Linked DNA regions of Homo sapiens. The protein of the gene in region 2 purifies or fractionates together with the protein of the main gene of each other region. This does not show direct contact. Each region holds a gene or a part of one and is shown on either strand. Other genes may lie near its edges. The genes, in order: CIP2A and UNC5B.

Region 1 (3,817 bases), on a different chromosome or scaffold from region 2:
TTAAACGCCCAAGATAATGTCAAATAAGGGCATTAAATAGTAAGCATAAAATGGACATCTGAGATAATGCCCAAAGAGAAAATTATTTACAACACAAATAAGACAGGGAATGCCAAGACACAGTCAAAATGGTGGGAAGGCCTCACACACAGAGGCAGAGGATAAGACTTCCATGTTCAGTGAGGCTGCAGATTCCCCTTTGAAGCTCTTAAGGTTTTGTTTCATGTCAGATTACCAGTTTATGCAAGCAGGCCATCACAAAATAGAGCAGCTTTACAGACCACTTTTAACTTGTAACTTGAAAAGCTTCCTGTGTATTTTTGTTGTTGCTGTTAAAAAAATATTTATTATAAAATTAAGGGAATTTTGGTTATATGTTCTCTAGGTCTTACATCCCATACTTTAACTCTTAAGGTATGATGACCTAAATTGCTAATTCTGAAAAGTGGAATCGCTAAATCAGTGAATAGCATATAGCATGGACCAGCACTTTTTCTTATAGGTCAAGATAGTAAGTATTTTAGACTCAAGGACCTATCTGGTCTCTGTCACAATTACTCAATTCTGCTTTTATAGAGTGAAAGCAACATAGACAGAGTATAAAAATGAGTGGGTGTGGCCATATTCCAATAAAACTATTTACAAAAACAGATGCCTGTCCACTGGCCAGTTTGCTGATCCCGGTATACAGGGAATATCTTACCTGTTTATCAACTACTTCAAATTATTCAAACCATTTTTACAAATTCATACATATAAATGACTTAAAAAAATTTTAAACCAGACTCCTAATAGACATTTAGTTCAGAGAGCCCTGAAATCTGAATTTTTTTTCAAACATAATTGCAAATATTCTTATTGCTTGAAAGTAACGAGTATAGTAGAAAATTTTGCCTGGTTGTCATTTTTCCACTTTCTGATAAAAGTTCAGATTTTTTTCTTTAGGAACTCTCCTATTCTCCTATCCCAACTAACTTTTAGTCCACATCGTTCTCATGGATAACCCAGGCCTGGTCAATGACTAATGCTTAGACCTTTTCCTTAAACAGTCAGGAAGGAAAAGCTCTTTCTATGGAGGAACTAAACTGGGAGGATGTAGGCTTAAGAGTGTCCAGAAGTTATCATTAAAAAGAAGTGGCTAGAGACATAGAGGGATAGTACCTGAAGAACATTTAACTGCCTGGATCTAGCTTTTCCCTGAGTGAGTATACATCTGAACTTTTCATTTATAAGAATCAAACATTTTTAGAAATCACTTGAAAAATTACTATTACAATGAAGTCTTCAATTCACTAATTTGCTTGTGTATCTATACTGAGGACTAAAGAGACATAGCAGGGTATTCCAACACCACAAGAGATACACTGCAAATGATTACAACTCACACTAAAGCAGGAAAATCTGGCAGTGGAGCAGCCTCCAATAATATTCTCAGTCCAGACTGTACTTGTTCTCTATTATCTGACGTTAAAGCAAAAGCCAAAGGAGTAATCAAACGTGGGTCCTAAATAAATCAGAAACCAAAAAAGAAGCAGCAGAAAGAATAAACAATGTCAGCTCTTTTAGATAGGAGGTGAGTAAATATATGTAAATCTTAATTCTAGGCAAATTCTAAAATGTTTCTAATGTTTGAATATATTATAGTCTATATAGTTTGAATATATTATACCTTGTTATAGCTGTTTACACTGCAATGCAATCAATATGAACAGTTTAAAAAAATCTGGCAAAGGTTTTGAATGCTTTCAAATGTGCCTATAAAAATTATGCCTTATATATTTTCGTGGATTAAAAAACCCACAACTGACTGATGTGTAGAATTAATGTTTTTTTCCAAGCTATCATTTAAAAGAAAAAAATGGCCAATCACTTCCAAATTAAGGCTATAAAATAAAAAGTAAAATTCAAATTAAATTAGAACATTTAAATTTAAAGATCGAAAAAATACAGTTACTTCAATCATTTATGTCAGTAAATATTTTACATTAGTATTGTAAGCCCCAAGTCATCAACATATATCTAAAATGTCTGGGACCAGAAGTGTTTCAAATTTCTGATTTTTTTCAGATTTTAGAATATTTACATGTACTTACTGGTTGGGCATCCCTAATCCAAAAACCCAAAATGCTTCAGTGAGCACTTCCTTTGAGTATCACCTTTGAGCCTCATTTTGGTACTTAAAACGTTTTGTTTTTTGGAGCATTTCAGATTTCAGATTTTCAAATTAGGGATGCTCAACCTGTATTATGAAAAACATCTTAAATAATGGACATAACATCAGTTTGACTCCTTTAAAAATACATTGAGATATTAGTGAAGAAAATATTAAAATATAAATCCCTTATAATTAAAATATTGAGTACCTTGTAGGTACTTGAGTATAATCCAGTGTCACAGAACTGTGATAAGAGCAGAGCTTTATCTCCAAAACCCTCAATGGTAAGCCTCATTATTTCCAGTTTGTAGTCGAGGAAATTGAAGTCGAGAGAGGTGAAATAACTTACTCAAGCCTGTACTAAGAACCAGTAGAGTCAACATTTGAACTCAGTCCCTTAATCTCAAAACATGCCAGTGGTCCCTGCCTAAGGTTTCAGTTTTGGCTTCTACACTGTCTATACAGTCACTAGAGATGTCTCTGTTAAGCTACTGCAGTAATTTAATTCACTCATTTTTGTTAAACATCTGTTGTAAAGGTAGGTGTTGTAGATATTATTACACAAAGTTTTTAAGAGGCTAATATTTTGGAGTAGTCTCCTCCACTATGCTTTAGCAGACCAGATCAAACCAGAAAGGAGTCACTTGGATGAGTGCCATGTAATCAAACTGCACTTTGAAATGGGCCAGTTTTCCAAAAAACCAGGAGATTTCAGTCAACCTGAGTTAGTATAATAAGGAAGCCCCCTTTATTATAATTCTATAGGAAAAGTAACTTTGAAATGACCAATCTGCTTTTAGTTCCCTATTTGTGCTTTCTTCAGCCCTTTTCTGGTCTATAAAGTCAACCTTCTCTGCTTAGCCCAGGGGAATGATTCATTCTATTTTATAGAATGAGGCTGCCAAATTCTAGAATCATAAATAAAAGCCAGTTAGAACTTTGAACTAAATTTGTTGTACTTTGCCTTTTGATAACAGCTAGAGATCATATTCAGCTACTATTATCATTGAAATTTGTGAGTTAGCTATTTTCTGCACAGCCCTTCTAATTATCACAATCCTTTTCTTCCAGCTGTCTCCCTATCCCCTTAATACCCTACATCAACCCTAACCAAAAACAAAAACCCTAAAACAAATATCACTCTTCCTCCAATGCCAACAGAAACAAATGAAGAAATATACAAATACAACACAAGAAAGGAAAAGGCTGAGGAAGCAGCACTATTGTGAACATTCTCTACATTAGTGTCATGAGCACTTATGTTCAATTCCTGTGAAAGTATATAAAATAACTGTGCAGTGAGACTATTATAACTGCTTAAGACAACAACTTTAAACTTTCTTCTCATTGCCAATTCTAAGAGAATTATCTTCTAAAGATTAAGAATATTAAAACAGAAACTTATATTAGGACCATTTATGTATGAATAAACTTCAATGTTTGAAGAGTTTAAACTCACCTGAAGTATTTTGTAGAAGCTTACTTCCATACCAGGAACCAATGGTTTAAGTTTGTTAATCAAATCAAGAGTTTTCAAAATTACATCAGCAGCAAGTTTGCTTTAAAGATAAATCACATTTAAATTAGATAACTGAAAAATTTCTTAGAGCTTGTTTCTGTCCAAAATTCTAAAGAAAATGAAAAAAACCAACACTTGTGTTT
Region 2 (3,817 bases):
GAAATCAAAACTGGAACCATAAAACCCCAGACCCTTAGAAGGTAATGTCAGCAAGTGACTAGCCAGAAAAGGCCACTTCAAAAGCTCTGGTTGGCCCTGGAAATCTCCTCCCACCCCACCTTTCAGCCCTTCCTGGAGCTTTTAATGAGCCTTTCCATGGCCTCTGGCTGGGATGGTTGAGAAGGAGTCGAGGTGTCAAGATAATACTTCTTTTTAAGGTGCAATTAAAATCAGAGTTTTTGTAGTGTCTCTGCTTGGTGTGTGTGTGTGTGTGTGTGTGTGTGTGTGTGTGTGCTCGCGTGCATGCGCCTGTGCACACACAATGATAGCCTGTCCTTGTCTCCCTCTGCACTCACTGTAGCAAACACCCATCTCACTTAAACAAATGGAAAATCAAGTGTCTTAATGGGTTTTCTCATTAAAGTGAAAGTACCACTGCAGGGGAGGAATTTCTCCTGTAATCTCTCTCCTCCACCTCTCTCCCCTCCCCCACAAACAGGGAATTCTGTAGGATAAAACAGTTCCCCTCTTTTCCAATCCATTTATTTAACTGTTGACACTTTGGGACAGGCCAACTTGCCCAAGGTCACACTGGGACTCACCGGTAGCGCCAGGACTTGAACTGAGGCCTCACAACCTCAATCTAGTGCTTCTAGCTCCTTCATTCCATCTGGGCTGGAGACCCACCATCATGGGTGTGGGCTTGAGACTCTGAAATTGAGGCACCACTTAAGGCAGGCAGCTAAAGATAAGATCGCTTTGATGGCTGCTTTAGACTGGAACTCATGGCAGGATGGAGGAAAGAGGTTGAGAGTTGGAAGGGTGAAGAGGTGTTCCAGGAGAGGGGGAACAGGGCAGAGCCAAAGGTCAGGAGTGAAGCTCTGAGACCAGGCAAGTGCCCAAAGGTGGCTCCCCCAACCCCCAGCATTGGCCTCCTGAGCAACTGCCCTGACCTGGGGAAGGGAGACAGGTCACAAGCCAAGCTCCCTTGGGCTGCATGGCCAAATAAACATTAGCATTTTATAGCTCTGCACCCATTTGTAGAGTTGGGGACAGAATATGTTTTTACTTTTTACTTATATTCAAAGCTTTAGGAGCCAGTGCCCTCCCCCACCTTTGTTGTTGAGTTTCTCCTGGACCGCAGGTCTAGTGACCCTTTTCCTGGGTGTCAGGCTTAAGACGAGGTCTGCCTCCTACGCCCCATTCCCTGAGCCACAGAGGTTTTCTAAGGAGGTTTGTGGGCTGCCTAAGACTTTGGGGATGGGCTGGGGGGAGATGGATCATTTCCATTCCAAGTGCTCTCGGACCAGGTTAGTGATTCTGAATAGACAGTGCTGGTACCTCCCTCCCCCAGGGCCTGCAGGCAGCCCGTCTTTTGACCCTCAGAGTTGGGGTTGGGTGGAAAGGAGACAGTTTGGAGGCCACTGCCGCCTTCAGGAAAGGGCAGAGGGGGCTGGGTCATAGGCTGGGACTTGGGGGTGGGAGCCTGGGCCCAGGGAAACTGCTGCCTGGGCAGATGGCCCCCAGAGGGTAGGGAGGAGAAAGCCGGCGCTCAGGCCAGAGCTGGCGCTTCTCTTGGCGTCCTCCTCCTTCTCCTCCTCACCAGTTTCCTAAACAGCTTCCACAAATAGAGTCATTAAAGCTGTGAAGGCAAAATGAAACCAAACAAGTGCGTTCTGTGCTTTTCTGTTTCTTATTTTTTTAAGGAAATTAAAAATACCGTAATTAGAATAATACAAGGAGAGAACACTTTGCGGAAGGCCTAGGGTAAGGGCACTTCCCACCCACTGGGTTGGCTCAAGAGGTTGGGACTGGGGCGCCACCTCCCGCCCCCTTAGGGTCTGCGATCCGCCGGGGGCGCCGCGGGCTTTTCCGCCGGCTCCATGCATTTCCCTGAGGCAGGATCTTTTTGGGGGAAGCTGGCATCCCGGCGCTGGCCTCGGCCCCCGACTGGGAGTTGGGTGGCGCTTGATTGGAACTCCGGCCCGGAGCCGCCTCAGCCGCTGCGCCCCCGCGGGCAGACAAGCCCGGGCGGAGCGCGCTAAGCCACAGGTCCCCGCGGCGTTCCTCCCGGTCTTCGGGGATGCTAATGGCAGCGAAAATATTTGCTGAAGTGCAGGCATAAATCAGCCGCCTCCCCGCTCCCCCACCCCCACCCCTTTTGTTTCCTCTTCCTTCTCTCCAAAAGCGCTGGGCTGCTGGGCGCCAGAATTTACCTTTTCCATCTTAGCGGCCTGATTAGCATCGCCGCCGCTTGTGGGGCTGGATTCTACCCTCTCCTGCGTCCCCCACCCCCAGTCCCCATCTCCACCTCCCTCCCCAGCCGAGCTAAATCGGTCTGCGGAGCCCCGGGAGCTCTAACGCCACCGCCTAGCGAGTGAGTGCACGGAGCCGCCCTCCTTCTCACCTCCCAGAACAGGCTGCCCCCAGTGCTTGCAACTTACCCCTTCGCGGCGCTGCACGGCTCGGCTCACTTCTCCAAGAAGGCAGGCTTGTGGGTGTGAGAGTATGTATTAAGGAGTGTGTGGGGGGTGAGAATGTGTATTAAGCAGGTGGGCGGAGGTGGGAGTTTGCAGGGAGGGGAGGGTGGGTGTGGTGTTGCACTGGGGTGTCAGGTGTGTGTGGGGGCGAGGCATGGACTGGGTGTGTGCCGGAGGATGGATGTGTGTTTGAGGAGGGTTGTGCCTTTTGTAACTCAGGAGGTGTGATGTATAGGCTGTGTCTGTGTTTGGGTGTGTGTGGGGTGGGCAATGTCACATGGGCACACTTGTGGTGTGTTTGTGTATAAATAGGTATGTGTAATGTGGAGACAGTGAGTCACCACCAGGCATGGGAAGCTCCATCCATTGTATTCCGTTGGGGATTCCACTTCAGGATGGGACCCAGGCCATTTGCCCATCAGCACTTAAGAGACCTCATTTTGCCCCACACCTGCACTGTGAGCAGGGTTTGGCCTGAGTGCCAGGTTCTGCTGTTGGAAGGGCAGAGGACAGCTTCCCCTGCTGAGTGCAGATGGGATAGGCCTGCCTGCAGGTGGGTCCTGGTGCTCCAGGGGGAGGAAGGTTGGCAGAGATGGACCCTAAGCCAGCCCAGCAGCTTGGGCTACTGCCCCCAGGAAGATCAGAGTCCCAGACCTGGAGTCTTCTGCAGTCAACTCCCAGCTTCCCCAGAGCATGGGAGCGGCTGTGGTTTGGAGATCTGCTCTCTGACCTGGGTCAGCTTATGCTTCAGCCTGTCTCCCCCAAAGGGAGTGAGTTCTCCTCTAGAGTTTGCTGGAGAAGGGGCCAGCAGAGCTTGAGTGGGTGGGATCCCCAGTGGAGAACCCCATCTCAGGCTGACGTGGCTGGGGCCTGGGACTCTCAGCGGTAGCAATTTAAAGAGGACAGACACACCCACACACATGCTGGACTCCACTGTCGTTACAACTTTCTTGGTCACAGAAGCGCTTACCTGCTTTCCCAGGGCTGTCCACAGGAAGGACTTCCATCACTTCAACTCTAGGATAAGATGGACTGTTCTGGAGCAGGGAGGCCTATAGGAAAATCACAGTCCCTCGCCCCACCCTGGTGTGCATGTTGCTTTACAGTTTACAAAACCCTTTTATATGTGCAGTCTCACTTTGTCCTTGTAAGAACTCACCGAGAAGGTGGAAGCTCTCACTTAGAAGGCTGAAGAGACAGGACTGGGACCCAGGTTTGTATTAGTCAGGGTTCTCTAGAGGGAAAGAACTAATATATATATAAAGGAGAGTTTAGTAAGTATTAACTCACACGATCACAAGGTCCCACAATAGGCCTTCTGCTGGCTGAGGAGCAAG

The links.
Region 1: the proteins of UNC5B (region 2) and CIP2A purify together in Homo sapiens (affinity purification with western blotting, with the first as the bait; one study listed by BioGRID). This does not show direct contact.

What each region holds. Positions count from the first base shown.
Region 1 is NC_000003.12:108,561,741-108,565,557, forward strand, and holds part of CIP2A (protein CIP2A), read right to left. Parts: intron 3,715-3,817; coding exon 3,615-3,714; intron 1,505-3,614; coding exon 1,386-1,504; intron 1-1,385.
Region 2 is NC_000010.11:71,215,550-71,219,366, forward strand, and holds part of UNC5B (netrin receptor UNC5B isoform 1 precursor), read left to right. Parts: intron 1-1,674; exon of another isoform or gene 1,675-2,086; intron 2,087-2,444; exon of another isoform or gene 2,445-2,679; intron 2,680-3,817. UniProt on the Homo sapiens protein: Receptor for netrin required for axon guidance. Mediates axon repulsion of neuronal growth cones in the developing nervous system upon ligand binding.